Linked DNA regions of Homo sapiens: all the other regions are linked to region 1. The links come from fine-mapping of genetic effects on gene expression. A gene starts in region 1. Each other region holds a variant in brackets. All regions are shown on one strand. Distances are between the middles of the regions. Region 1 holds the start of LYPD6B (LY6/PLAUR domain containing 6B). Region 2 overlaps LYPD6B (LY6/PLAUR domain containing 6B). Region 3 has its middle 36 kb from the start of MMADHC-DT.

Region 1 (10,604 bases):
GTCTCTAACAGATCTTCCAACTCCAAAACTCCTGTCCCGGCTATGTCTGGAAGGCAGTGACTCCTAACTATTCCTGAGACCCAAATGGCTTTGCAAGTCTTACAACAGCTGTGGATGTTCTGTTTAGTAAAAACGTATACAGACACAGAACTTCAAATTCAGTTGCAGGGTCTGTGGCTTTTGATTAAGAATTCCTACTTTAAGGTTAACCCTTGAAAGAGAATGTAAGCATTCACTTGAGCCAGGCATGAAGCAGCTGCTCACTAAAGGTCAGTTATTATGCTATTTCTGTGTCTCAGCTTTTCTATGAAATTCTCATATTGTTGTCTCATTGTATAGGTGAGGACACTGAGGCATAGAGAGATTAACATGCATTGTAAGTTGTGGCTGAATTTGAACTCAAACAGTCTGATTCCAGAGCCAGTGTGAACTTAAAATCTGGGCTGCCTGATAAAGTGGTTATCAGTTTTGCCTACTTGAATTCATGGCACTTTCTGCTCCTAATATTTCTGGCCACTTCCCTATACCTCCTTATATTAGTCATAATTAAGTAAGCAGCTACTATGGTATGAGGCCACCACTTCTCCTGTTGTCCTTCCCAGTTTCTCCCCAACCTCCCCTTTTCCCTAGTTTATAAGACAGGAGAAAAGGGAGAAAGCAAAAAGTTGGAAAGAAACAGAAGTAAGATAAATAGCTAGACGACCTTGGCACCACCACCTGGCCCTGGTGGTTAAAATAATAATAATATTAACCCCTGACCAAAACTACTGGTGTTATCTGTAAATTCCAGATGTTGTATGAGAAAGCACTGTAAAACTTTTTGTTCTGTTAGCTGATGTATGTAGCCCCCAGTTACGTTCCTCACGCTTACTTGATCTATTATGACTTTTTCATGTAGACCCCTTAGAGTTGTAAGCCCTTAAAAGGGCCAGGAATTTCTTTTTCGGGGAGCTCGGCTCTTAAGACATGAGTCTGCCGATGCTCCTGGCCAAATAAAAAAAACTCTTCCTTCTTTAATCTGGTGTCTGAGGAGTTTTCTCTGCGACTCGTCCTGCTACACTACTATGTGCCAGGAATGCTACACACATTGTCTCATTGAAAAATGTCCTCAGAAAATGATATACAGTATTTTTTATTTTATTTTATTTTTTTTGAGATGGAGTTTCACTGTTGTGGTCCAGGCTGGAGTGCAATGGCAGGATCTCGGCTCACTGCAACCTCTGCCTCCTGGGTTCAAGCAATTCTCCTGCCTCAGCCTCCCAAGTAACTGGGATTACAGGTGCCCGTCACCACGCCCGGCTAGATATACATTATTAATATACATGTTGAGTCCTAAGTAAAGACAGGAAAAATTAGGAAGGTAAATATATCCTAAGGCTCAGAAGTTTTTTGGATTGTTGCTTCTTTGGATAATTTATATTTCATTATATTATCAGAGAACTAGAGATAGAGCAGAAACTGAAGATTTTCTAGTTCAAATATCATTCTCCTAGAGACCAGTAGAGAATAGCAATAAATAGTTATTTGTAAAGATTAATTAATTCATTCTAGAGTCTTATGAAGTCTATCAGTGGTTTTGTCCCTATTTCCAGCATTTTAATGTTGATCAGAAGTGGGCTGGCTCTCTTTGCACTGCTAGGCAGAGCTACTGTTCACTGAGCAGGTGCTTTGTGCTGGCGCTGTGCTCAAGCACTTTACGTGGATTATTTAACTTAGCCACACAACAGTATCAGAACTTCTTATTTCAGATACCCCTTTTAAGCAAAAAACTTCAAACAGAGATCTTGTCTGATTTCATGGCTGCACATTTTCCAAGTAGGAAAAACACACAATTGAGGAACATGCCCAAGGCTGCTCAGCAAGCACAGGAGAGAGAGTGGGGTGGGGAGGGAGAGATCACGTGCAAGCAAGCAAGCACTGGGGCAGAACCTGTACCCTCCTGATGATTCTCAGGCCTGTCTGGGTGGCATCACTTAGCAGGCTGGCCCAGCCAAGATCACACGCACAGCAGCAGGATTTTAAATCACAGGGGATCACATGCTCTACTGACTGAAACCAACACAAAAAAAGGTCTAGGTCCATTTCATGTGAGTGAGACCCAGAGGTGCTCCTTTGCTCAGCCCTACCTGCTGGTGCAAGTGGCTGTCCCAAAGTGCAGGCCCCACCACAGCTCCACCCTGGGACACCAGATTCCCTGCCACCATAGAGGGAGTAGCAACTGAGGTAGGGCACACCTAGGTGGGGCATCCCATATAACCTTTTCTAGGTTGGCCTTGCCCAGTGTGACGTAGCCAGCCAGGTAACACCAGATCTGAAATACCCATATGTGCAGAACCCACTGAAGGGGTGGGGTGTCTAGACCTTAAGAGTGTTGGGCTTGTTGTCAGTGGAGGGGTGGAGCAGTCTTCTTGGCCCTGACCTCACCTTAATAGAGATCCTCCCATTTTGGCCTTGGAGGTTTAATATATAGTCACGGAAGTGTACTGAAATAGTCATAAGAAGGAATGTTCTCCATACAACTTTAAAGTTGTACAGTGCTTTCTGCAGTGAAATGAATTTTTTCACGGAATGGATTTTTTTAACGAGTCTTGAAATTAACATGTGAGGAGCAGCATGACACATTACCTCGTGTGTGTGTGTGTGTGTGTGTGTGTGTGTGTGTGTGTGTGTGAGTGAAGGCCATTTGTTAAATGGAACACCTAAAAATACCATTGTTTTTGTTTTTGCGGTTGTCAGGGGCCTCAATAAATGCAAGCTGGCTCAGGAGATGCTTGACCTCAGAGGTCTGGAAAGACAGATTAGAAGTCTCAGCAGAGGACCAAACCCAGACCCCACTTCTGCAGAAGTTCTGTACCCAGGTTTCCCCACTGCAGGCATAACCAGCAGCCCCTCAAAGGCCCCAGACCAGCCAACTGTCTTTAGAAATGCAGACCCAGGATCAGCTTTGCTACCAGCCATGGAATCTTGGGTCAGTGGCCCATACTCTGAGCTGTGTTTCCACAGTGCAAGGCTGGCCGGACAGTGTTTTATTTCAGAGTTCTCCTGTCTGTGGCATCTTCAGAAGTTAAAGATTTGCTTGACCACTATAAGGTGCCCTGGGAGTGTAGACCTCCCACATCCCAGCTGCCTGGCTGGCAGTGGGTGGGGAGTAAGCAGTAGAGAGAGGACAGGTGGCCCGGAATCTAACAGCTTGCCTCTGGATTCTCCCTAGTAAGCTTGGAATGATGCTGGAGCAGCTCTGGGCCGAGGGGACCAGTCTAACGCTGGACGCAAAAGACTGGGCGCCACCTAGTCTGTTCATCAGGTATTAAATGCCCTGAGTTTTCAAAGCTCTGGTGATTCAGTAGTGGACGGGTAAGGTTCCTGCCTCTCCTGGGGCTTACCGTCCAGGGGTGGGGAGGACGTCACTATATGAAATTATCTTATTTATAGCTTAATGTCATTATTTAAAAAGGGGGAGGGAATCACTTGACGGGTGGGCAAGGTGGGGACGGGGTTGGATGGAATGGTCAAAAAAGGTCTTTCAGAGTTCTTCCAATCCTGAACTAACTCACCTGCACCCTTGGCCCAATCATTTTCACTCCCGAGGGTCTGCACTCCTCGTTTCTACATTGGTTTTCTAGGAAGAAAGGGGTTGGACCCTCCCCTCTTTAAGCTGGGTGGGGTCCGAATCCCGTGCTTCTTTCACTTCCTGAGCCGGGCTGGCTGGGTGGGAACAGGCTCCTTGCCGCCTCCCCAGCGCTGGCCACTACCACACTGCCGCCCGCCTGGGCCTCCTTTCAACCTCGTGGTGGAGCCCTGCGGTTTCCCAGCGGAGCCGGGCCCGGGGCTGCTCCCTCGCGGGCGAGGCTCACCTGTCCCGGCCCGGCCCCCTCCCGCGCCCCAGGTGGTTCAGGGCAGGGAGGAGCCGCGCCCCGCCCCGCGCGGTAGCAGCCAACGCCGGCCCCAGGCGGGTGCGCTGGGAGCCTGGGCCGGGAGCCGGGTGAGGGCGCCGAGAGGCTCGGTGGGCGCGGGCGGCGAGGTGAGCTGGGCCAGCGCAGCAGGCGGGGGCGGTGGTGGGTTCGGGACGGCTCACCCCGCGCCGGAGCGAGTGCGGGGCCGCGCGACTGCGGCGGGAGATGCGCTGCGCCCCTTCTGGGCGCGCTGGGGCAGCCAGGAGCTCGCGGGGCCGCGGGGCCGCGGGGCCGCGGGGCCGCGGCGCAGTGGCGGGGTCGGGGTCTGGTCGCTGCCTCGAGGCGAGCAGCTGCCAACATCTGGACGGGACGGGAGCAGGGGGCCGGGGCAAGGCTGGAGCGGTGTGGGTCTCTAATCGTCCAGAGCCCTGCGGGGCCAGTGACTTCGGCAGAGCCGAGGGGAGAGGAGATACTGGGGGTCAAACTGCTGGAGAGAGCGCGGAGCTGGGGCTGGGGTTCAAGGCCGATCGTGGGGCCAAGAGCGAGCGTGCCAGCTCCAGTGTTTCCCCCTGCAGCGCTTCACGCGCGACCAGCTTGGGTGCCGCCGCTTCCCTTGCCCCGGCTCTTTACTTTTGTTGTTGAATAACCTACCTTACACATTGGTTAGTTACCTGGGGCTTCTCAAAAGCCGGGTCTGGAGGCTGCTCTGACTCCAGGGGGCTTGGGTTGTGAGGCTTCAGGTCTGTATGCCCTGTGGCGTTTGGGGGGAGCTGGTGGGTGGAGGGGTGCTGTCCACCTCCCAAGGCCAGGGGATCAGAGAGTGGGAAAAGTCTAGAATGCTATTTAAATTCCAGTAACTAGCTGTGTGACCTTGGGCAAGTTACTGAACTGCTCTGAGCCTCAGTTCCCTTAAAGTAAAATAGGTATTATTAATATTATAATCATTACAACAGACTTAGGTTATATGATGTTCATGGAGTACATAGCATACTGCTTGATTTTTCCCCCTTTGTGTTGATGTGGTGATGTGTGTGTTGTGGGGTGGGGGCATTCTTTCCCACCCTGACTTGTTCATGGTTAGGCTTCCTCCAGGATGCCTTACTTGCTGACAGCATCACAGAGGCCAAGATTAGGGCTGCCAGTGCACGGGCCCTGCAGATGGAGGGGGTGTTGTCAGACTGCCCTCATCATTACCCATCGTATTTGTCAGAATTGTTTTCTTTGGGTTGGGTTTTGGTCACTTGAAAATTGCCTTATACTATGTAGAAATTGATTGGGTCACATAAATGAAAAGGTCGAGGGTTTCAGTTTAAAGCTATAGCTAGTTCCAGAGGCTCATACAAGGTTCCAGGGCTAGTTCTCTCTCTTGTATATCTTAGCTGTTTTTCTCTCTGTGTTTACTGGTTCTTAGTATGGACGATAAATAGGACTTGCACCTTCAGGCTTATCTGCTCCTTCAGAGAGAGAGACAGAGACAAAGAGGGAGAGAGAGAATCCCATCTTCTCTATCCGTATAGCAGTCTCTCTCTGTCTCTCTCTCTCTCTCTCTTTTTTTTTTTTTCTTTTGAGACAGACTCTCACTCTGTCACCCAGGCTGGAGTGCAGTGGTGTGATCTCGGCTCACTGCATGCAACCTCCACCTCCCAGGTCCAAGCGATTATCCTGCCTCAGCCTCCCAAGTAGCTGGAGTTACAGGCGCCGGCCACCACGTGGGACTAATTTTTGTATTTTTAGTGGAGATGAGGTTTCACCATGTTGGCCAGGCTGGTCTCGAACTCCTAACCTCAAGTGATCTGCCCGTCTTGGCCTCCCAAAGTGCTGGGATTATAGGAGTGAGCCACTGCACCCGGCCCCTTATAGCAATCTTATTGACATACTGGACCAAAACAGAACCAAGCCATCTCAGCAGACAGGGAGAGGTTTACACAACAGGAATGGGCACATGACCGACTGTGATTGATAGACTGGCCCACCTCTGCTGCAAGGCATGTCGGTAGGGGGCGCAATTCCCAATGAGAAGTCTGACAAAACAGGACATGTTCATTTTACTATCTCTGTCTTTGCTCACCAGCGCCTAAAGGTAGTCTGCAGTAGAATGTAGACAGCCTGAGGGCCGTATTCCATCAGTCAAGTCTTCATCTAATGCATGGAGGGCATCCTGTGTGTCCATCTTTTCATTCATTGTTTTTTGTTTATTCATTCATTCGACATATAATAAATGCTCAACATATGCCAGGGCCTCTGCCAAGGGCGAAAATGCTTGCTTTTGAGAAGCTCACAGTCTAGTTGGAAAGACAGATATGAGGATAACATCGTCTAGGACTCATCTGTCTGGGGACGTAGTGAAGACTCCCCAAAGAAACTGTAGTTGAGCTTTGAATTGAAAATGAGCTCCAGCCTGGGCAGCAGAGCAAGACTCCGTCTCAAAAAAAAAAAAAAAAAAAAGAAAATGAGAAGGGCTGGTCTAGGAGAAAAATTCTAGGCCATGTGGTAGGATTCCAGAGGGACACTTTTTGTTGTAATATGTTTAGGTTACTCTACTTTCTTGCTTAGAACATCTGAAGGTAGGTCGTTCGAAGTGGCCACAGCTCTTTGGTGGCTTCTAGAAAATTATCTTCTTTTTCCAGGGTGACTAGAGCTCCATCATGCCTTCACATGACAACATCCAAAGCAGAAAAAAGAAGGCCGGGGCTTGCTGCTTAATCTTTCTCTAGATAATAAAGGACAAATTTTCCCCGAAGTTCCCCGCGTCACTGGCCAAAGTGGTCTAACGCTTACCCTGAAACCAGTCATTGGCAAAGGAGAAGAGGGGCCCATGATTGTTTTGCCCAAGCTATTTTCCGGAGCTGTAGGAGGGGCTCACCTACCTGAGCATCCATGCTCCATGTCTGAACACAATCAGAATTCTGTTAGCAAGGAGGAAAGTGAGACTGCCTGTTGGGCTGTTAGGTAGGCAACAAACTGTGTCTCCCAGAGGTGGGGACAGGTGATGCAAGGTCTGGCACAGATTGGTAATCAGAAGTCCAATACCATGGGAGATGCCTAGGGTGTGGCTGAGGGGAGGAAAGGAGCTGAGGTTGGAAAAGTAAGTAAAGACAGGACTACCCTGTATTAGATTCCATGGATGTCACTAAGAAGCATAGTAAATCTTGGTCCAATTCCTCAACAAGCTTACACCTGAAACCTGGAAAAGCTTCTCTGAGTTTTCCATACTCCCAATAGTAATAGCAACAGTGGCTCACTCTATGGTGGCAATTCTCAAGGGGTGGATTGGGGTGGAGGAGTTTCAGAAGAGTTTCAAACCCTGTGTAGTTTGAAAAGCCTCACATATGATTTTGCTGGGCACCCACTGCCTACCTTCCCCGGAAACTCCCTGTCCCTCTCTTGAGAACACTTAGTTGCTCTAAATCATGACTTTGTTTCAGTATTGTTAACTGTCTTCAAACTAACAGGCTGGGACTTGGTGAAGATGCAATTAATGGTAGATCCTGGACTAGTAAACAATTCTCCTGATGCTAAGTCCAAAGAGCGATAACTTTGGTAGTTGCATTTAGTAGGAAACCAGCCTCTACCATGAACTGCTTTGAAATCATGTATCCTATTTTCATCTGAAATGTGAAGTGAGTGCTGCACTTTGTTTCTGCTTTATATGGTAGACATTGGTGGACATTGGTGCTGGACTTTTGGAATCAGATTGGGCAACCAAGGATGCCGCTTCTCATGATCCTCTATCCTCAATATCTAGTTAGCAAAGAAATTGGCAAAAAGACATGATCACTAATGCTGGAAGAAAGCAGAAGTGGAGGGCAGCATATTTTCCTGTTTTCAGCAACAATACTGCCATGGGCTGGCCAGGATCACTGGAAGAATGTGAGGGAATGAGGTAGAGAGAAATGCCTTGGGCAGTCATTTATTTCACAAATATTTATTGAGCATCTACTGTGTGCCAGACACTGTTCTAGGTGCTGGGGATTGGAGCTTACAGTCTACTAGATGGAGACATTTATTTATGTTTTGTCTAATAAGTCAGGCGGTGAGAAGTACAGAAATAAAAAATAAAATAGATCCAGACAAGAGTGCAGTCATTAGAAACAAACTGGATATAGTGCTGGAAATCATGGCTTATTCTCTCTTGTTTCCAGCAGAGCTATATGGTCTAAGCAGGTAGGGTTTTGGGCAAAAAGGACAGGTGTTCATGTGGAAAAAGACAGTTAAATGTTAAATAACTCAATTTTATAGGATTTCTTTCATGCAGAATTTCTTTGATTGTTTGTTATAACTCACATTGTTCCTAAATATGATTTATAATGACTTACAAAAACATGGTACCAGGTCATGAGAAATAAATGTAGAAACATGAGCAAAGGGAAAATAAGGGTCATTTCTTTCATCATTATGTTCCAGAATTGTTTAGTTTTGGTAGCAGGGAAAGGAAGAAATACGGTGGTTACAAATGTGGTGATTCATGCTCAGGGTTCATTATTTAAAAGAAGAGAAAATAAATTTTGATGCCTCAGGAACTTGTACTTTCTTTTGGTGTTTAAAGAATCAATTTTATTTGATAGAAAAAGTGGTCTCTTTACTAAGGACTTGTATGAAATTTATCTCCTGAATTCAAAGAAAACTAACTTCTTTTGGGTCAATATAAAGTACACCAAAAGTTAACAGATCAAAAGTCCAATTCCAAAGTTAAATAATATGCTACAGATACAAATTGATGAGAGGTTATGTTTGGACCCATTACTGCCTGGAAAAAACAGAAACGCAAATAAAATTTTAAAGTGTTGAAGTGTTTTGCAGAGGTAATTTTAACTACTTGCTTTTATTGAGTTTTCTTGTTGTTCAGTACAATAATTTGGATATAAGTCTTGTGTCAGAAATGTAATTTGTAAATTACTTCTCCCAGCGACTGCCTTGTCATTTTTATTCCCTTAACAATGTCTTCTCAGAGCAAAAGTTTTAATTTTGATAAACCAGTTTATCGATTTTTTAATACATCCAACTTTTATTGTTGTATTGAGGAATTCTCTAACTAACCAAAAAGTCTTGAACATTTCTATTTTCTTCTAGAAGTTTCATGTTTTATGTTTTACACTTAGGTCTATGATCCATTTTACTTTAATTTTTGTATAAGGGATAAAGTATGAGTCAAAGGTATTTTCTTTTTGGTATGTGGGAGTCCAAATGTTCCAGCACCATTTGTTGAAATGACTGTCCTTTCTTCCCTTGAATTGTCTTAGAGCTTTTGTCACTAATCAATTAGCTAAAATGTAAGGGTTTATTACTAGACTCTCAATTCAGTTCCATTGATCTGTATGCTTACTTCATGCCAACACTACAGTATCTTGATTATTGTGGCTTTAGAATACATTTTGGAAGCACATAGTGTAGGCCCTCCAACTTTATTCTTTTTCAAAATTGCTATGACTCTTTTAGTTCTTTTGCCTTTCCATATGAATTCTAGAATTAGTTTGTCAATATCTACAAAAAAATCCTCCTAGGATTTTGAATGGAATTGTATTAAATCTACAGATTAATTTAGGAAGAATTGACATCTTTACATTATTGAGTTTTCTAGTTCATGAGCAGGGTATAACCATCCATTTATTTAAGTCTTTGATTTCTTCCATCAGCACTCTGTAGTTTTCAGGATATAGATCTTGCACATATTTTGTTAGATTTATACTTAGGTATTTCATTTTGGGGATTGCTGTTGTTGCTGGTATATAGAAATAGAATTTATTTTTGTGTGTTGGTATTGTATTCTGTGGCCTTGCTAAAGTTACTCATCTGTTTTAGGTGGGTCCTTTGTAGATTCTTTGGAATTTTCTACATAGACAATCATATTATCTGTGAATAGAGACAGTTTTATTTTTCCTTTCTAACCTAAATGCCGTGTCTTTCTTTCCTCCCTCCCTCCTTCTCTTCCTCCAACTTATTGCACTGGCTAAGAATTGCAGTACAATGTTGAATAGCAGTGATAAGAGAGAACATCCTTACTTTGTTTCTTATCATGGAGCAGGCAGCAATAAATCTTTCACTGTTAAGTATGATGTTAGTTGAGGTTTCTTGTAGATACAATATGATGTTAAGAAATTTCCTTTGTACTCCTAGTTTATTGACAGTGTTTTTTAAAATTATGGGTGGATTTTGAATTTTATTGAATGCTTTTTTTACCATCAACTGACAGAACCATATGAGTTTTCTTAATATTTAATATGGTGAATTGCACTGATTGATTTTCAAATGTTGAACCAGACTTACATTCTCTGGATAAATTCCACTTGGTTGTAATGTATTTTTGGAGGGGACTAGGTAGATTGGTATTATTTATTCCTTCAGTGTTTGGTAGAATTCTCTAGTGAAACCATTTGGTCCTAGAGTTTTCTTTGTTGGAAGGTTTTTAACACAAATTTAATTTTATAAATAGATATAGGACTATTCAGATTATCTATTTCTTCTTGATAAGTTTTGTTAGTTTCTATCTTTCAAAGATTCAGTCCACTTCACCTAAGTTGTCAAATTCATTGATACAGAATTTTTTGTGGTGTTCTTTTATTAGCCATTTATGTCTGAATGGTCAGTAATAATACTCCCTCTTTTATTCTTGACATTATTAACTTATGTCTTCAGTCTTTTTCTTGCTCAGTCTGTCTAGAGGTTTATCAATTTTACTGATCTCTTCAAAGATCCAGATTTTGGTTTAATTTT
Region 2 (10,604 bases), 100 kb after region 1:
GTTATATTTTCTAAAGTAATGTTCTCTTCTGTCTTATGCACATGAAAACTACGTGAACTGGTATATTCCTCTTGCTGTTTACTAGGAAGTTCAGAACCAAATGTAAATCTTAATAACTCATTCATTCATTTATTCAATGAGGATACATGGAAACCCTGTGACATGTAGCACCGTGAAGTGCTGGCAGTCCTGAACTCAAGGCCACAGTGTCAGCCTTCCAGCAAGGTGGTTCGAGTTCCAACTCGGGAAGGAATGGTTTATTGCCTCCTGGAGCCCCTATGCTTTGGATGCTTGCCCTGGAAGGGGAGAGCATGGCTTTTCCATGAAACATAACCCGTTCTCCACTCAGCTTATTAGCAATAGAAAGGGGGCAGCTCATATTCCTCTCAGGTGTCGTCAAAGGCTGCTGTTGTCCAAGGGTGAAGGCCCCTTGGTAGCTTGATTAGCACACAGCTTGGCCTGTGCTGATTTTCAGATGGAGACCATCAGATATAATCTGCCGCTTCATTAGGTTGACACTCTTCCTGCCCCCTCTTGTAATAATGTCACCAGAGCACTTAATAATTTTAGGTAAAGGCTGTAAGCATACACTTCAGAGGCAACCTAGGGTCGGCGGTGACAGATGCTAGCAAGGCAAATCTTTTCTCATTCCTCATTTAAACAGCAAGGCACTGTTTAAAATATAACAAGCAAAGAGGTATCATAATGGGGAAAGTTTAAGTATTAGAGGAGCAGAACTTACAGCAACATAACTACTTTAAAACAAATATCTTATTCAAATTTGCCGTGTTTCAAGATCAAGGGGGCCATGAAATAAATTGGATGATTATTACAGACTTAAAGAAGAGAACTTGTTTATCTTAGAGAAGAGAAGGCAGAGAGAGGCCCTTAAGTATTTGAAGATAGGTAATATGGACATAGTTGTGAACTCCTCTCCATTTCCCATGAAAATTAGAGACATATGTCTTACATTTGTTCAAGAAGGAATTAGGTTAGACTATAAGAAGAACTTTCTAGGGACTGGAAAAGCCCATGGGTGGGAAGAAAAGAAGACTCACCTCTTTTTAAAATTTCTTGCTTCCTTCCTTTTTTGTTGTTGTGTGGGGGTGGATTTTTTTTTCTTTACTGGAACTGAATTCCAGAAGTAATTTATTGGCCTGACACCAGGCTGTGTATAAATTCACAAACGTATATAACCTGCTCCCAGAGGACCATGTGCATGTGGGAGGGATTGGACAGATTGTTCTATATTTCCTGGGTGACAGGCTGTGGTGGGAAAGGGCTGGGGACCCTGAGTGTTTGGCTTGTAGCCTACACCTAACACCAGCTTTTCTTGGTCAGTGCTGGTGATGCCAAGGCAACGAGCGAGCTTGTGGTTCAGCGCTTTGCATGATGTGGGGCTCCCTTAAAGAACCAAAGTGTGGGGAGAGTGCCTTCAGGGCAGGGCTGCTGGGAAGTGGCAGGGCGAGGAGGCTTCCTTCTGTCCCCATGATTCCCTCACATAGGGTAGTGCTAAGCGAGGTCCAGAGAAGGTAAATGGGAGAAGTCTCATAAAGAGTTGAACTTGTAGGAATCAGGGGTGCCCGTTCAGCATGGCAATTGAATCCTTGATCCTCAGGGAGTTAGCTAGATCCGACTCACACCTGCTGGACCGTGAGAGCCAATGTCCCTCCCACACTCTTAGATTCAAATAATCTCTTTAAGCTTATCCTTGCATTTAGAATGCCAGTACTTTTGTAGCATTGGTGTTGTATTCCCCACACTGGCTGAAAGAAGGTTTTCCCTCACTTTTATGATTGGGTCACCAAGGAAATAAATGCCTGGTGAATTTCCACAAAATCCAGCATCGTGGCATAAATTCTTTCTCTCCATCTTGAATTTTCTTTCTCCAGAGAGAAAACTTTTCTCCATTTGTCCCATCTTTGATCGTTCGTTAGGCATAAAAGGAGAGAGGAAGCTGCAGTTTGCAAAAATAAACACTTTAGAAGGGATTTGGCCAAAACATAAAACAATGTTTACATTTCCCATCTGCAAATTTTATGATAGAGGCACATATTTATTTGGTGCCTACTGTGTGCTATAGGTACTGATAGATAACAGTAAATAAAGTCCCTGTTCTCATGGAACTTACCTTCTAATGTGAGAGGCCAACAAAAATCATCAGGTGGTGGTAAGTGATGAAAAAAGCACTAAAACCAGGTAAGAAAATAGAGATTGATAGGGTAGAATATTCTTTAGATAACCTGGTCAGGGCAGGCTTTTGTGACTAAGTGACGTTTGGGCAGAGAGCTGAGTGAATGCAGGGAGTAAGCCATGTGACTGTCTGGGGCAGAGCATTCCAGGAAATGGGAACCATGCGTGCAAAGTCCTGAGGCAGGGCCACAATTGTACTTGGTGCATCCGCGTGGAGTACAGGGGGGAGAGAAATCAGGGAGGTAGCCTGATTTAAAGTTGTTTGGTGTGTCTTTTCATCTTCTGTATTTTTTGTATATTTTCTATCATTTTGTTCTGTTATTCTGGAAATGTCGTTAGGAATTACATAGCAATGAATCAGATTTGTAAAGCCATTCAACATTTTGCATTCCAAGTGAATTTAATGGGTCCATAGTTTCTGAATTACTGATATATTGAATTTTTTCTGCCTTGTTATTTTGTATTTGTTATATGAAATCTTTCTTACTTTTTTTCTTTTTATTTACTATTAAAAAAATTCCAACCTCCTGTTGGATTATCAAGTTTTCTCTTATTCTTCTTTTACCCCCTGTACCTAATTGGAAGCTGTATTAATTTTAATTTCCCAGGGCAACTATAACAAAGTAATACAAGCCGGATGGCTCAGAACAACAGAAATTTATTGTCTCATAGTCCTGGAGGTTAGAAGTCTGAAATCAAGGTGTCAGCAAGGCCATGCTTCCTCTAAGATCTGTAGAGAAATCTTTCTTCTCCTCTTTCAAGCTTCTGGTGGCTTGCTTGCAGTCTTTGGTGTTCCCTGGTTTGCAGCTGCATAACTCGAGTCTTGTCTGCACAGTGAGTTAGTAGCTGCTGGAGAGAAAATAGTACTAATTTGGAATTCTCACACCTGTACGGTTATAATAGTTAACTGATAACATCGAGACTTGGTCTGCTATCATTTACCTTATGGATTCCTGTATATGCAACCCTGCCCATGCTGCATATTAGAAACTTCTGCTCAGCTTTTAAAAAATACTGGTGTTCTGGCCAACTTCACTTAAGACCAGTTAAATTCGAATCTTGGTTGGCGTGGCTCTGGGCAATGGCGTTTATTAAAAGCTCCCCGGGTGACTTCATCACCCAGCCAGGATGCAGACCCATCGTGGGGAGACAATCTGGACAAATGTGTATTGAGCGCTGGCTGAGTGCAGCCAGCCCTGCACTGGGCTTGGGAGGTGCACCCGAAGAAGACCCATGGAGCACCCATCTTGCTTTTTCCAGGAATGGGGTCCTGTAGCATTTATTGAGGGTCTTACACCAGGGGCTCAGTTAATATTTGTTAATTGGTTGATTGAATTGCAGATCACTGATAAGGGGCCTGGGATACGAGTGAAAGAAGTGTTGAGTGAGAAGGGAATTGGAGAGTGCCAGCCAAGTATTAAATTAGGGGAACAGGACAGGAGATACCGCATCCTTAAAATGCAAACTTTGTTTTTGCCACTTTCTTTTGTGTGTGTTGTATATAATGCTTATCAACCTCTCCCCCCATAGACAACTTTTTCTTATCTCCTGTCTTTAAAAAAAAAAGTTTTAATTTTAGAGACAGGGTCTCACTATTTTGCCCAGGCTGGCCTTGAACTCCTGGTCTCAAGTGATCCTTCCATCTTAGCCCCGTGAGCAGCTGGGACTACAAGTGCATGCCACTACGCCCGGTTTCCTGCCCTCTTGAACTAAGTATTTTTTTAATCGACTTTTTCCTTCTTCACCTGATTACAAGCTACGTATCTTAATTGTATTCTTTAGGGAGTAACCTTCGTTTTAGAAATTAATAAACTTTTACTTTAGAATAGTTATAGATATATGGAGAAGTTGAAAAGATAGTACAAAGAGTTCACATATACCCCACACTCAGTTTCTGCTATTATTCACATCTTACATCAGTTTGGCACATTTTTTACAATTAATGAGGCAATAATGATACATTATTATTAGTTAACATGCATAATCATTCAGATTTCCTTAGTTCTTTTCCTTTTGTCCATTATCTCTCCCACTATCCCATCTATGATATTACATGTATGCACTACACTTTCAAAAATATGCATAAATCCATTTATTTCCCAGCAAAGTTTAACTTAATTGGCAGCTTTCTATTTGTATAAGATGAGACCATTAACACACTCTAATTCCCCTTTGTTTTTCCATCTCAACTTCTTGGCTCGTTGTATGTAAATTTTGGTTCCAACTTTTTTTTTTTAGGACAATGAGTTTATGATCTGGGCAGGGACCTTCGGTGAGAAATGGCAGTTCTTCTTGGTCTTCCTATGCTGAGGATGTGAGAGAAAACTACAAGACTACGCCATGTTTTTACTATACCGTTTGAAAAGTTTAGAAATTTGTGTTCTAACATTGCAACATGTGACGCAAAAAAAAAAAAAAAAAAAATCACACCACCATCACCCTAAAACAATGACAAGGGAAATTAGCTATGGGTGACAATAACTTGTCTTATCAATCTCAGCAGATCTCTCCTTCCAATTGTCTCTTCTGAGGAGCATAAAGACAGAATCATCACGAGATGCAGTAAATAACCCCCACAGAGTTTAATTGTTTTTAAATTGCAATTATAACTAATTAAATGCTAAGATGTGAACAGCTGCACAAGAATATTTAACAGATTTCTTGGCATCATCCCCACTTTTAATATTACTTTTAAAAGGCTAGCTATGGAAATAAGTAGTGAGTGGTTATTTTATGCTTTTCACATCAGAAACTGAAAAAACAACCTGAAAGTTGGCAAAGAAAGGATTCTGTGGTTTTTCTAAGTCTCTCAAGCCAGTGGACAGCCACGGCACTCAGCATAATTGGGTAAGTGTGGTCAGCAAGTCCTGAGAGATGAGATGAGATCAGTTCAAACTGCATGATAAGGGAGGTCTTTGTGGTGGATTCTTTCATCTAACATACATATATTCAGCTTTGACTGTGTACTTATCATTGTGTTAGAACTGGGGTCCCAGGGCAAAATAAATGATGACTTCTGCCTCAGAGGGGCTTATAGTATGATGGTGGAGATGGTCTGGTTCATCAGTGGCTTCAGCTTAATGCAGAGGATGGCAAACTATGGCCTGAAGCCAGCCTGCCAGTTTCTGTATGGCCTACAAGCTCAGAATGATTTGTATGAAGAAAAAAGAAAACAAGAATGGGGGTGGGGTCTTTGGGCACTGACTTTTTTGGCATTTCTGTCCAAAGTAGAGCCTCTATCTGGCCCTTTAGATGAAAGACTAGTTTTTTTTGTTTGTTTTTGTTTGTTTGTTTGTTTTCGAGACAGAGTCTCCCCCTGTCACCCAGGCTGGAATGCAGTGGCGTGATCTTGGCTCACTGTACTTTCCACCTCCCAGGTTCAAGCGAGTCTCCTGCCTTAGCCTCCCAAATAGCTGGGATTACAGGCACCCGCCACCACGCCTGGCTAATTTTTGTATTTTTAGTACAGACAAGGTTTCACCATGTTGGCCCTACTGGTTTTGAACTCCTGGGCTCAAGTCATCCGCCCACCTCAGCCTCCCAAAGTGCTGGGATTACAAGCATGAGCCATGGTGCCTGACCAAGACTAGTAGTATTTTGTAAGTAAGGATCACAGCATACTCATGAGGCTAGGACAGCAAAATCTTACTGGGGAAATCAGAGAAGTCACCCC[C/T]AGAAGAGGAGATACTATAGGAACAAACATTTAATGGCTTTTCCACTTGACGTGCCTTCAAATACAGCAAATTTCACATCTTCCACCCCTGATTTGTATTGAATTTGTTCTTTCCACTGTTCCCTATGAAACGTGGTGTCAACTGCTCTACTTGTTACTGCCCATTGATTGTGTTCCTTACTATGAAATCTACGGATGGGGCTTCAGAGGTCCTGAGAACCCCCTAAACTGAGAGTGTACAGATTCATATGTGCATATTTTTTCTGGGAAGAGGGGTTCATAGCCTCGCTCAGATTCTTTAAGTGGTCCGTCATTTGAAAATGTTGAGAAACACAGTTTTAAATTAGGCTTCTTGGAATTAAAATCAGTACCACTGATGGTGGGTTCTGACTAGAGCAGATTCAAGCAGAGGGATTATGAGTTTCCTTCTGTTAGTCCAGGTCAAATTTCCAATAGCTTCATCCATTCACAGCATATTTAGAGAGAAACCCTTCTCAAACTACTGGATTGTGTGCTTGGACGATACATGCAGTTGCGCTCTTGAGGGGACCTGGGATATTAGAGGATATTTGCCTGGATGCTCAAGAGAGCAGAGTCTGAGAAAAAGATTAAGATACTAACAGTTTACTTGGAAGACACAAGCCCGGGTGCGAGAGTGAGGGAAAACAGAAGTGAGACACAGGGGAAGATACGGTGAACACACTGGGATGCTTTATTGTGCTGACTGATGCCTTCCGGCAAGCCTGAAGAACCACATCTGTCTCTTCTGCAACTAATGCAGGAGGGTCACAAGGAAGGGCCACATGTTGAAACAGCCCATAGAAGAGAGAAAGAGGGGGTGGATGGATCTGCCAGCCTCCCTCCCTTCTCCCTTTTAACATCAGCAAAATTTTGTCCTATGAGCAGCTAATACTACTTCACTTGAAGTTGGCATCCTCCACCCCTCAGAGACTTCTCAGGAAGCTCTGTGGTGTGGTATTCTGGTCAATGCAAAACAGAGTGGTGACCCAGTGAAAGTGAGGGTGCCAGTCAAAAGAAAGAGAAATAAAAGCAATGCTTTAAGGAATCTGGGAAGGTGCACAAGGTTTGTTCCTCCTAGTAGGGGAGGCAGCAGACCTCTGAAGAAACAACAGGCAACAGTTGGGAGAAAGGAACTTCTGGGCAGAGGAAACATGTGACCGGAGGTGAAAACTGGAGAAGATAAGGTGTGCAAACTAGGGCAGGGAAGAAGACAGTTCTGCTGAGATAGTGTGTTCATGCCTCCATCTGCATGTCCATCTGATATTCATTAAGCTTCTATTCTGTGCCAATGACAATATGAGTGAACAAAAACAGAAATGGTCCTACCCTCGCAGAGCTTACAGTGCAAGAGACAGATATTAATCATGTAATTATACAAGCACGTGCAAAATTGCAATGACGTGGCGTGCTCATGGGGGAATGAAGAGTGGACTGTTCTGTGAACCTTTATTAGGTGGAGTTAATCATGGTGAGAGAGGCCAGGCTCTCCAGGCTGAGTGGTGCATGCACTGAGATAGACAGGAAGACTAAGAGTTAATAGCAAGTGAAAGGGAGGAAGGGGCACTGTAGGGGGGGATGCCATATCCAGAGGCTCTGCGGAAGGATGGAGCATGGCAAATACGAACCTCAGAAAGAAGACTGTGTGGCCAGAGCCAACAGAGGATGAGGGAGAATGGCAGGATGGGAGGTAGGCAGCAGGGCTGGGCCACGCCAGGCTGTGTGAAAGGAGTTTGCATTTGTCTGAGGAGCAGTGGGAGCCTTTGGATGCATTTATGTAGATAAGTATTATAATCAGGTTAGGGGTCATTTGGGAAGACCCAGTAAAGAGAACCCCTAGATATTAAAGACCCTCTCAGTTTAGACAGTCTTGGCCGAACTATGGCTATTGGGGGCCACTCCTCAGAGACCCCAAATATTAACAACCCCAAGGATGTGTGAAGGAAAAGCAACTCCAGGAGAATTCCGATAGTAACAAACAATAGGCACTGGAGACTTTAGGGGCTGGTAGCTGTGGGATTAGAAGACCCTTGCGCTTACCTGCCGGAACATATTTCAAACACTGTAGAATCTTCTACAAATTTTATTATTTTTTATTTCTTCACAACACTGTCAGGGCACAAGAAAGTCGAGGTGCACACATGGAAAGTCTAGAATTGAATCACGAATACGGGTGCCCTCCTGAGGCCTCATCCCTCCAGTGGGATTGCTGGGGATGGTCAGGTGAAGGGCTCCTCCCACACAGTCTAAGACTCCAGGGCGGAGAAGCACAACCCCAGCTTCTCAGCGGTTCCCAGAGCGTTGACTCAGATTCTCTTTGAGCCTTGCTTTGCCCAAGGCCCTGATGTCTACTCTGCTTCCAGGAGGCTTGGGGGTAGTTGTGTGGCCTCAAACTCTACGTGTTCAAAAGAAAACAAAAACAAAACAAAAAACGAAGCAGAAATCCATGGTGAAGCAATTTGAGGAGGAAGAGCTATTATCAATCCAACTACTAATTTACCTTTAACTTGTGATAAAGAGGGTAACCCAAGTCATTAATCCAGAGGAGGGTATCTCTGAAGGACAGGCTTTTCTGCCTCTTGAAAAGCTTTGAAAGGAATTTAAATTAATTCTTATCTGATAAGGATTTATTTGTGTATTGTGACTACCTCCAGTCAGATCATACTGTGTGATGCTTTGTTTGAGGGTTTGTTTGTTTTTTTGTTTTTTGTTTGTTTGTTTGTTTGTTTTTGAGATAGGGCCTTGCTCTGTCACACAGGCTGGAGTGCAGTGGCACAGTTTCAGTTCACTGCAGCCTCTACCTTCCAGGTTCAAGTGATTCTCCCCCTGCAGCCTCTGGAGTAGCTGGGATTACAGATGAGCGCCACCACGCCCGGCTAATTTTTGTATTTTTAGTAGAGACAGGGTTTCACCACGTTTGCCAGGCTGGTCTCGAACTCCTGACCACAGGTGATGCACTCATCTTGGCCTCCCAAAGTGCTGGGATTATAGGTGTGAGCCACTGCGCCCAGCCTTGTGTGATGCTTTGGTGTGACTATAAGAAGCTTCAAGATTGAGTAGGGCAGGCTTGGCTGATTGGCTGATTGCAAATTTATGCACATGGGCCTGTGTGTGTGTGTGTGTGTGTGTGTGTGTGTGTGTATAGTCAGAGATGATGGTAGTCATGTGTTCTGAGCTATGGGTAGTTTCCATTCTTCTTCTGTTTTCAGGATATTTCAAGATGGCTGTAGGAACAAGTTTCTCTTGACCCATTTGCCTGTCAATTCAGTACACAATCAGGCAAAGGAAATATCTCTATGCAATATTCCAGTGCCTCCTGTTCTATGGAATGCCCTGCATTTTCCTTTCTGAATTGAGCAGCTGCATGTGAAAATTGATTTAACATGTCAAATCTTGGATATTTCTTCTAAAAGCTTTTAGGTGAACCCTTGCTTAGTAATTCTAAACTGTGTTACATCTTCCCAGGGAAAAGAAATGCAGGACTTCACAGTTGGATTTGGACAAATTGGAGGCTTTTAGGAAAGTCATAAAAGTGATTAAGGGCTGGAGGGAGTGACTGACAAGAGATTAAAGGAGTGAAATTCGGATCTTTGCCAAACTACAGATGTTGGGGGAGCAGAGGGCAAAACACTTAGAAGATCATAAAATGCTGGGGAAGGAAGAGGGGCTGTTTCAAGGCTCTTAACCTCTTTTTGGCTCATGGACCTTTTGCAAATTCATAGTAGCTCTGAACCATCTCCTTAGAGGGATGTCCAGGCTCATACATTTTTGGCCTGTCTCTTTTCTCACTCTAGTTTCCAGACGTGTGGTGTTATCACGTAAGTCAGAAATGGCCAGCCCTTTTGCTTTTTCAGTAGAAGTTAGAAATATAGACTTTAGTGTGAATTTTTCCATTTAAAAAACTGTGCTGGCCAAATTAAACCCCTCTCTGTGCCCTCTAGATTGCCAGTTTGCCTCCTCTTGTTGAGGGCAGTGCTGAGGAAGGCTGGATGCAATGGCTCACAGGTGTGACACGAGTGCTTGGCTGACTGCAAAGAGTAGGATTATGGGACAGTGGACGAACAAGTGTTTTACAGACTTCTACAGCCTGCAGTCTTATTGAGCAAACAGTAGCTGCAACACTGAATCAAATACATACCTGGAAATGATGCTAAGTGCTGTGAAGAGGTGGTGAGTGCTGTGTACGAGGGAGAGTACCCAGGGAACTAACCGAAGCAGAAGGGGGCATGGAAAGACCTCTAAGAAAGCAGCTAACCTGAAACCTGAAGGATACATTGACAAGGGGTGCGGGGAGGAAGAACATTCCAGGCATTTGGAGTTACGCAAGAATGACCAGAGTTCTATTAGGTTGATGAAAAAATAATTGCAGTTTTCACCATTAAAAGTAATGGCAAAACTGCAATTACTTTTGCACCAACCTAATAGAAAGAACTTGAACATTTATGTGTCTTCACATGTTATTTTCTTCATTTACAGGTAAAAACAGAGCCCGAACCAAGAAACTAAGCTCTCTTGAAAGATTTCCAAGAGTTAATTTTGTGTGTGATTTTGTATGCTATTTTTCTTTCATTCATAGTTTATTGAGCATAAATTAGTCTCCTCCTGTACTCAAATCCTACACACACACACACACGCACACCCCTATGTCCTGTCTGCATAGTAATTGCTGGCCCTATTCATCTTAGCTGATTTTTCAAACATTCAACTTAGATTTTTAAAA
Region 3 (10,604 bases), 510 kb after region 1:
TGCCTATGTCCTGAATGGTAATGCCTAGGTTTTCTTCTAGGGTTTTGATAGTTTTAGGTCTAACATGTAAGTCTTTAATCCATCTTGAGTTAATTTTTGTATAAGGTGTAAGGAAGGGATCCAGTTTCAGCTTTCTACATATGGCTAGCCAGTTTTCCCAGCACCAATTATTAAATAGGGAATCCTTTCCCCATTTCTTGTTTTTCTCAGGTTTGTCAAAGATCAGATAGTTGTAGATATGCAGCGTTATTTCTGAGGGCTCTGTTCTGTTCCATTGATCTATATCTCTGTTTTGGTACCAGTACCATGCTGTTTTGGTTACTGTAGCCTTGTAGTATAGTTTGAAGTCAGGTAGCCTGATGCCTCCAGCTTTGTTCTTTTGGCTTAGGATTGACTTGGTGATGCGGGCTCTTTTTTGGTTCCATATGAACTTTAAAGTAGTTTTTTCCAATTCAGTGAAGAAAGTCATTGGTAGCTTGATGGGGATGGCATTGAATCTATAAATTACCTTGGGCAGTATGGCCATTTTCACAATATTGATTCTTCCTACCCATGAGCATGGAATGTTCCTGCATTTGTTTGTATCCTCTTTTATTTCATTGAGCAGTGGTTTGTAGTTCTCCTTGAAGAGGTCCTTCACATCCCTTGTAAGTTGGATTCCTAAGTATTTTATTCTCTTTGAAGCAATTGTGAATGGGAGTTCACTCATGATTTGGCTCTCTGTCTGTTATTGGTGTATAAGAATGCTTGTGATTTTTGTACATTGATTTTGTATCCTGAGACGTTGCTGAAGTTGCTTATCAGCTTAAGGAGATTTTGGGCTGAGACAATGGGGTTTTCTAGATATACAATCATGTCGTCTGCAAACAGGGACAATTTGACTTCCTCTTTTCCTAATTGAATACCCTTTATTTCCTTCTCCTGCCTAATTGCCCTGGCCAGAACTTCCCACACTATGTTGAATAGGAGTGGTGAGAGAGGGCATTCCTGTCTTGTGCCGGTTTTCAAAGGGAATGCTTCCAGTTTTTGCCCATTCAGTATGATATTGGCTGTGGGTTTGTCATAGATAGCTCTTATTATTTTGAGATACATCCCATCAATACCTAATTGATTGAGAGTTTTTAGCATGAAGGGTTGTTGAATTTTGTCAAAGGCCTTTTCTGCATCTATTGAGATAATCTTGTGGTTTTTGTCTTTGGTTCTGTTTATATGCTGGATTACATTTATTGATTTGCATATATTGAACCAGCCTTGCATCCCAGGGATGAAGCCCACTTGATCATGGTGGATAAGCTTTTTGATGTGCTGTTGGATTCGGTTTGCCAGTATTTTATTTAGGATTTTTGCATCAATGTTCATCAAGGCTATTGGTCTAAAATTCTCTTTTTTGGTTGTGTCTCTGCCAGGCTTTGGTATCAGGATGATGCTGGCCTCATAAAATGAGTTAGGGAGGATTCCCTCTTTTTCTATTAATTGGAATAGTTTCAGAAGGAATGGTACCAGTTCCTCCTTGTACCTCTGGTAGAATTCGGCTGTGAATCCATCTGGCCCTGGACTCTTTTGGTTGGTAAGCTATTGATTATTGCCACAATTTCAGATCCTGTTATTGGTCTATTCAGAGATTCAACTTCTTCCAGGTTTAGTCTTGGGAGAGTGTATGTGTTGAGGAATTCATCCATTTCTTCTAGATTTTCTAGTTTATTTGCATAGAGGTGTTTGTAGTATTCTCTGATGGTAGTTTGTATTTCTGTGGGATCGGTGGTGATATCCCCTTTATCATTTTTTATTGCGTCTATTTGATTCTTCTCTCTTTTTTTCTTTATTAGTCTTGCTAGTGGTCTATCAATTTTGTTGATCCTTTCAAAAAACCAGCTCCTGGATTCATTAATTGTTTGAAGGGTTTTTTGTGTCTCTATTTCCTTCAGTTCTGCTCTGATTTTAGTTATTTCTTGCCTTCTGCTAGCTTTTGAATGTGTTTGCTCTTGCTTTTCTAGTTCTTTTAATTGTGTTGTTAGGGTATCAATTTTGGATCTTTCCTGCTTTCTCTTGTGGGCATAAATTTCCCTCTACACACTGCTTTGAATGTGTCCCAGAGATTCTGGTATGTTGTGTCTTTGTTCTCGTTGGTTTCAAAGAACATCTTTATTTCTGCCTTCCTTTCGTTATGTACCCAGTAGTCATTCAGGAGCAGGTTGTTCAGTGTCCATGTAGTTGAGTGGTTTTGAGTGAGTTTCTTAATCCTGAGTTCTAGTTTGATTGCACTGTGGTCTGAGAGACAGTTTGCTATAATTTCTGTTCTTTTACATTTGCTGAGGAGTGCTTTACTTCCAAGTATGTGGTCAATTTTGGAATAGGTGTGGTGTGGTGCTGAAAAAAATGTATATTCTGTTGTTTTGGGGTGGAGAGTTCTGTAGATGTCTATTAGGTCCGCTTGGTGCAGAGCTGAGTTCAATTCGTGGGTATCCTTGTTAACTTTCTGTCTTGTTGATCTGTCTAATGTTGACAGTGGGGTGTTAAAGTCTCCCATTATTATTGTGTGGGAGTCTAAGTCTCTTTGTAGGTCACTCAGGACTTGCTTTATGAATCTGGGTGCTCCTGTATTGGGTGCATATATATTTAGAATAGTTAGCTCTTCTTGTTGAATTGATTCCTTTACCATTATGTAATGGCCTTGTTTGTCTCTTTTGATCTTTGTTGGTTTAAAGTCTGTTTTATCAGAGACTAGGATTGCAACCCCTGCCTTTTTTTGTTTTCCATTTGCTTGGTAGATCTTCCTTCATCCTTTTATTTTGAGCCTATGTGTGTCTCTGCACGTGAGATGGGTTTCCTGAATACAGCACACTGATGTGTCTTGACTCTTTATCCAATTTGCCAGTCTGTGTCTTTTAGTTGGAGCATTTAGTCCATTTACATTTAAAGTTAATATTGTTATGTGTGAATTTGGTCCTGTCCTTATGATGTTAGCTGGTTATTTTGCTCGTTAGTTGATGCAGTTTCTTCCTAGCCTTGATGGTCTTTACAATTTGGTATGATTTTGTAGTGGCTGGTACTGGTTGTTCCTTTCCATATTAGTGCTTCCTTCAGGAGCTCTTTTAGGGCAGACCTGGTGGTGACAAAATCTCTCAGCATTTGCTTGTCTGTAAAGTATTTTATTTCTCCTTCACTTATGAAGCTTAGTTTGGCTGGATATGAAATTCTGCGTTGACAATTCTTTTCTTTAAGAATGTTGAATATTGGCCCCCACTCTCTTCTGGCTTGTAGAGTTTCTGCCGAGAGATCCACTGTTATTCTGATGGGCTTCCCTTTGTGGTTAACCCGACCTTTCTCTCTGGCTGCCCTTAACATTTTTTCCTTCATTTCAACTTTGGTGAATCTGACAATTATGTGTCTTGGAGTTGCTCTTCTCGAGGAGTACCTTTGTGGCATTCTCTGTATTTCCTGAATCTGAATGTTGGCCTGCCTTGCTTGATTGGGGAAGTTCTCCTGGATAATATCCTGCAGAGTGTTTTCCAACTTGGTTCCATTCTCCCCGTCACTTTCAGGTACACCAATCAGATGTAGATTTGGTCTTTTCACATAGTCCCATATTTCTTGGAGGCTTTGTTCATTTCTTTTTATTCTTTTTTCTCTAAACTTCCCTTCTCGCTTCATTTCATTCATTTCATCTTCCATCACTGATACCCTTTCTTCCAGTTGATCGCATCGGCTCCTGAGGCTTCTGCATTCTTCATGTTGTTCTCGAGCCTTGGCTTTCAGCTCCATCAGCTCCTTTAAGGACTTCTCTCCATTGGTTATTCTAGGTATCCATTCATCTAATTTTTTTTCAAAGTTTTTAACTTCTTTGCCATTGGTTTGAATTTCCTCCTGTAGCTTGGAGTAGTTTGATCGTCTGAAGTCTTCTTCTCTCAACTCGTCAAAGTCATTCTCCATCCAGCTTTGTTCCATTGCTGGTGAGGAACTACGTTCTTTTGGAGGAGGAGAGGTGCTCTACTTTTTAGAGTTTCCAGTTGTTCTGCTCTGTTTTTTCCCCATCTTTGTGGTTTTATCTACTTTTGGTCTTTGGTGATGGTGATATACAGATGGGTTTTTGGTGTTGATGTCCTTTCTGCTTGTTAGTTTTCCTTCTAACAGACAGGACCCTCAGCTGCAGGTCTGTTGGAATTTGCTAGAGGTCCACTCCAGACCCTGTTTGCCTGGGTATCAGCAGCAGTGGCTGCAGAGCAGTGGATTTTCATGAACCGCGAATGCTGCTGTCTGATTGTTCCTCTGGAAGTTTTGTCTCAGAGGAGTACCCGGCTGTTTGAGGTGTCAGTCTGCCCCTACTGGGGTGTGCCTCCCAGTTAGGCTGCTCAGGGGTCAGGGACCCACTTGAGGAGGCAGTCTGCCTGTTCTCAGATCTCCAGCTGCGTGCTGGGAGAACCACTGCTCTCTTCAAAGCTGTCAGACAGTGTCATTTAAGTCTGCAGAGGTTACTGCTGTCTTTTTGTTTGTCTGTGCCCTGCCCCCAGAGGTGGAGCCTACAGAGGCAGGCAGGCCTCCTTGAGCTGTGGTGGGCTCCACCCAGTTCGAGCTTCCCGGCTGCTTTGTTTACCTAAGCAAGCCTGGGCAATGGTGGGCGCCCCTCCCCCAGCCTGGCTGCCACCTTGCAGTTTGATCTCAGACTGCTGTGCTAGCAATCAGGGAGACTCCGTGGGCGTAGGACCCTTTGGGCCATGTGCGGGATATAATCTCCTGGTGCGCCATTGTTTAAGCCCATCGGAAAAGCACAGTATTAGGGTGGGAGTGACCCGATTTTCCAGGTGCCGTCTGTCACCCCTTTCTTTGACTAGGAAAGGGAACTCCCTGACCCCTTTTGCTTCCCGAGTGAGGTAATGCCTCGCCCTGCTTCGGCTTGCGCATGGTGCGCTGCACTCACTGTCCTGTGCCCACTGTCTGGCACTCCCTAGTGAGATGAACCCAGTACCTCAGATGGAAATGCAGAAATCACCCGTCTTCTGCATCACTCACGCTGGGATCTGTAGACCGGAGCTCTTCCTATTCGGCCATCTTGGCTGCCCTTTAATAGATGTTTTCATTGTGGAATGGATAAAGTGAATTATCATATGTATTACCTCACATAGTTTTATTTGTAATGAGAACATTTAAAGTTTACTGTTTTAGTAATTTTCAAGAATATAATATATTTTATTAATTATACCTACCCTAATATACAATTGATATCTTAAACTTATTCCTACTGTCTAACTGAAATTTTGTATTCCTTGACCAACATCTCCTCAACCATTCCCTTTCCGTAGCCTCTGGGAATCACCATTCTACTGTACGTTATAAGTTTGACCTTTTTTAGACTCCACTTATAAATGAGATTATGTAGTATTTATCTTTCTGTGTCGGACTTATTTTACTTAAAATAATGTTCCCCAGGTTTATCCATGTTTTTGCAAATGACAGAATTTCCTTATTTTTAAGGCTGAATAGTATTCCTTTGCATATGTATATATATACATATATATATATGCAAAAAACAAATATGTATATGTATTCGTTTATTTGTTGGTGGACACTTACGTTAATTCTGTATCTCGTACATTGTAAATAATGCTGAAATGAACATAGAGGTACAGATATCTCTTCAACATATTGATTCCAATTCTTTTGACTACATACTGAGAAGTGGAATTGCTGGGTCCTATGGTAGTTCTGCTTTTAATTTTTAGAGAAAATTCCATATTGTTTTCTGCAATGGCTGTAGTAATTCACATTTCCATCAACAGTGTGTAATGGCTCCCTTTTGTCCACATTCTTGCCAACACTTATTATCTTTCATTTTTTTTTTTTTTAACAAATGCTGTTCTAACAGGTGAGAAGTGATATCCCATTGTGGTTTTCATTTGCATTTACCCAGTGACTAGTGATATTGAGCATTTTTTTTTCATGTAACTGTTGGCTATTCATTTGCATGCTTTCTTTTTTTTTTTTTTTTTTTTCAGCTCTTATTGTAGGTCCGGGAGTTACAAGTGCAGGTTTGTTACATGAATAAATAGTGTCGCTGAGGCTTAACCCTGTCACCAAGGTAGTGAGCATAGTGCCCGGTAGGCAGGCAGACTTCCAAGCCATCCCCCTTTCTCCCCTCCCACCTCTATTGTTCCCATCTTTGTGTCCATGTGTATTTAATATTCAGCTCCTACTTATAAGTGAGAACATGTGGTATTTAGTTTTCTTTTCCTGCATTAGTTCACTTAGGATAATGGCCTCCAGCTGCATCCATGTTGCGCAAAGGACATGATTTCATTCTTTTTTATGGCTGAGTAGGATTCTATGGTGTATGTGTACCACATTTTCT[T/G]TATCGAGTCCATCGGTGGGCATTGATGGGCATCTTGGTTGATTTCATATTTTTACTATTATGAATAGCACTGAAGTGAACATAGGAGTACATGTGTCTTTTGGGTAGCATGATCTATTTTCCTCTGAGTATATATCCAATAGAGGGATTGCTGGGTTGAATGGTAGTTCTGTGTTCCATTCTTTGGGAAATCTCCATACTGCTTTCCACAGTGGCCAAGCTAATTTATATTCCTACCAGCAATATATAAATGTTCCCTTTTCTCTGCAACCTTGCCAGCGTCTGTTATTTTTCAACTTTTTAATAATAGCCATTCTGATTGGTGTGACATAGTATCTCATGGTGCTTTTGATTTGCATTTCTTTAATGATTAGTGATGATTAGCATTTTTTCATCTTTTTATTGGTTGTGTGAATGTCTCCTTTTGAGAAGTGCCTGTTCATGAGCTTTGTAGGGCGGTGATTTCTAGACACATTCCATGGTGTTCTGGAAGTTCCCTTATTAAGGGAGCAGTGTGTAGTGTTATGGGGAACAGTGCAGGTTGTGGAGAAATAGAAGAGGCTTCAGACACTCTCCCATTGCTCAACCAATGCTTAATATAAGAATTTTTATTTGCTTATGCTCTTACGTAAGTATGTAAACAAAAGTTTTCAGGGCCAAAATGATTATAAACCACTGGAAGAAAAAGGAAGCTGTAAGATTTTGAAAAAGACAAAATCAGGTGCAATTTGAGGAAACTACTCTGAATTCCAGAATAGAGTATTAGTCTCCAATCTGAAGTGGCTGTTCCCCAAAGTATATTGGATTGAATGGGTTGTTGTCAACTGGCACCATCAGCTCCAGTATCTTCTGAGGCTGGGAAATACATTTCTTGGAATTGCCTTCTTAGTAGAGTAATGTTTTAGAGTTTTCTGAGGAGAGGAACTTGGGGAAATTTAGAAGGTAGAGGTGAAGCAAAAAGCATCATATGCAGAAGGTCCTGGGGTGCCCAGGGATGGTCCCGCACAGCAGTTTTCTGAGAATTCTGTAGGAGCTCCCACTTCACTGTCCTTATTTGTGGTCAGTTCTACTGCTTCTGAGACTTACCTGCAAACTCCAACTCAGCATTTCTACTTCAAGCTGAAGCTGTGTTTCTCTAGTCCTGACTCTCCCCTTCTAGACCCACCTGTGCTTCCTAGCTTCTCAGGTAAGCTGTAATTCTTCAATGACTCCTCCAATGCTTGTAGCATCCTTTATCTTGACAGTACACAGGATGATACATGTATGTGTCAAATAATTCATTGAATGGGGAAGATCATCTTAGAACTTCTATTTACGTTTATCTTTTAATCTGTCCATTTAAACATTTTTAATGTGTATAAACATCTTATTATATATATATAATAGCAAAAAAATGTGCATACTTATAAAGAAATCAATGTGCAGGTATGGAGGTGTGTGCTCAATGTTTTCACTCACAGGGGTGTGAAGTTTTAAAAGTTTGGAGAATAGTGGTAGAAAAATGACCTTGGGAGGGAGGACAAAACTGAAGACAAAACATTCCATCCGTAGGCTATTACAGAAGTAGTACTGGAGAGAATTTATGAGCATCTGAAGTAAGGCAGTGGCAGGGGCAGTCCTGATGAAAGTGGTATTTAGGATGTTAAATAATAGGAAGCAGCAACTGATAGATCACCTTTTGAGGAGTCAAAGAGAAGGACACTTTACACAGCTTCTATGCTTGCAGTTTAGCTGCTCCCATTCACAGTGCAAAGGCTGCTGAGTTTTTTATTTGTTCTTCCCAGGTCAACAATTTAGAAAAGCAGCCAGTCCACCAAAACCAAGTAAGGTTTATCTCAGGAACGTGAGGGATGATATGAGAAAAACACTCTCTCAAATCTATCTTATAAGAACCTTAAAAGAAAATGATTCTAGGAGCAAAAGCTAATTTTCTACCCAAATTTTGTCTTGGCTTTTAAGTTGGCTTGGCCCAGAAATGGCTTACATCACCACCACCACTTTTTTTTCCTCACACTCTTTCTGCTCCTATCAGTCGAATGTAGACAACAATAAGGACTTAGGAGTTAATACGGATACAAGGTGGAAGGAGTCTGGGTCCCCGAATTACCTTCTGGAGGAGAGCCACCTGCCTTTCTGTAATATGACTAAGAAGTAAGACTTCCATTCTGTTGGACGCCAAAATATATATCAGTGTAAGCCAATATAGCTGTGTAGTCTACCTTAAATATGACAGGGATTATTATAATAGGAGCCCCAAAGTATGCAATAATAGTAAATAATCATTGCTGATACAAACTTGTGGAAAACAGTTACTTTCTTAACAAGAGGTCCATGGACTTCCAGGGGGTCCATGAACAGAATAAAATTTGGTTGGAAAGAAAATTACATTTTTATTTTGGCATTCCTTTCCATTATGAACACAGGCAACAAATCAAGTGTTATTGGCAGTTCTTGTGACTTGTCACCAATAGAAAACACAGATTTTTCCCCATCATATTACAGCTGTTGCAGATATCTCATAAGGTCATTTCTCCTTGTCACTAATTCAAAATTATAGCAGCATTAGACTGCTGTTCAATTTTGTAATTTAATGCATTAATAAAAAGTATATATGTCACAAACTTTAAAAATGTTTTGACAAATGTGTTTCAAAATAATTGAGTTTTTAGTAACTATATATATTTTATGCATTTAAAAACATAATTCTGAAAAGGGGCCCATGGCATAAAAAAGGCTAAGGGCCCCTGAAAGATATTTTTTCAATGTAGCAAAGAATAGCTAATGTAAACAAGAGTTGCTGCTTCCAAATTTTATATTTCTAGTTTGAATAATAACTAAGATGTAATAAAGAAACAGAATTATAACAGTTAAAAAACTCATAGTATTTCTTAAGTGCCAGAATAATATTAAATAATTTGTAATAATATAATATGATAAAATAACAAAAATTAAAAAAAACCTGTGCATATCTGTGTATGTTTGGACATATGCACATACATGTTTGTAACCTTTTTTATTGAGGGCAACCATAGCCATTATACCCATTAAGACTTCTTTTGGGATGTTTCTTTCTAATTCATTCGTACAATCACTTTATAAATAGTAGAATTCAAGTTAAAGTATTTACAATATTCTTGAGCTTCACCAAACCATATAAGCAGGTGTTAATAGCCACTTTATTCAGGAATCATGCTGGGGATTGCAATACTAAAATTTTTAATTTCGTCTAAATTTTATTAGCCTAAAAATATACTAGTGCACTTTTTCTAAATCCAGAATTCAAAGGCTTCTTGAACTTTTAGTTTTCAAACGTAGGAGAACATACTCTGAGCCACCTGCCATATAAAGACTTGTATTATCAAGCCTTTTCATTTATGACTGTGGGATACCTAAAAAAATCATTTATCAAAATCACTTTAAATCATGTTCCAATCACTTCCTTATAATCAACAGGCCCACCCTTCAATAAAATATCCAAAAGCCATTTCCAAAAGTGAGAAGCTTGACCAGTGATTTTCATGAAGCAGTAGGGCATGAAAGATTGGAACTTTCATATGAAAAAGACTTGAGTTTGGATTCCTAGTCCATTACTTAGAAATGTTGTGAGCTTAAATAATTTACTTATTTTTTTCTGAGTTTCGATTTCCTCCTCAGGAACTGGAGATACTATCACTTATCCCATACTGTTTTTATGACTATTAAATGAGATACAGTACTTCTGTAAATTTTAACAGTAAATGCATGTGAAAAAATGGTTAATTTCCAATCTCCTACTGACCGTAAATGGAATCATGACAATAGATGTGAACAGTTTGACTTTTGCGAAGACCTAGCAAAATCTCTATGGAGGGAACTATTTTGCACTAATGTAGGACTTTTAAAAACTTGGCTTTTTAAACACACAGTATCTGTCACTACAAATACTGATATTTTGAAGACCTGTGTTCTCTCACAGTGTATGTATATAAGTTTTTAAACTATTGAGGTGGAATTCTGTTGGATACAGTGTTTGCATGTTGAGTTTTGAGGTACTGCACACTTCGCCAACAGGAAACCATTTCAAATGCCAATAAAAACTTTCCAAAAAAAAACATCTCTGGGCATGTAATGGCTGATTAAGTCTAAAGCAGTGAATTCTGTGATTACTTAACACACTATCTGTGTATGTACAGCTAGTAGGAGTGCTCCATTTATTTGTTTTGGATGTGATGAATTGTTTGTGATGGTATTACTTTTCCAAAGTTGTGGTGAGATTAAATAC

What was found.
Region 2: its variant is fine-mapped to the expression of LYPD6B in testis (GTEx, PIP above 0.99).
Region 3: its variant is fine-mapped to the expression of LYPD6B in testis (GTEx, PIP 0.95).

What each region holds. Positions count from the first base shown.
Region 1 is chr2:149,034,781-149,045,384 of GRCh38, forward strand. LYPD6B (LY6/PLAUR domain containing 6B) reads left to right here and starts at 3,919. Exons shown (of 7, transcript NM_177964.5): 1 at 3,919-4,021. RefSeq lists enhancers at 2,989-3,048, 4,262-4,311, 4,352-4,411 and silencers at 3,672-4,011, 4,022-4,181.
Region 2 is chr2:149,138,917-149,149,520 of GRCh38, forward strand. The region is part of intron 2 of LYPD6B (LY6/PLAUR domain containing 6B); the gene reads left to right. Among named protein-coding and RNA genes, the nearest start is that of LYPD6B, 110 kb to the left of the region's middle. The variant C/T (reference allele first, on the strand shown) is at 5,867.
Region 3 is chr2:149,546,165-149,556,768 of GRCh38, forward strand. No RefSeq gene overlaps it. Among named protein-coding and RNA genes, the nearest start is that of MMADHC-DT, 36 kb to the right of the region's middle. RefSeq lists a silencer at 10,291-10,585. The variant T/G (reference allele first, on the strand shown) is at 6,344.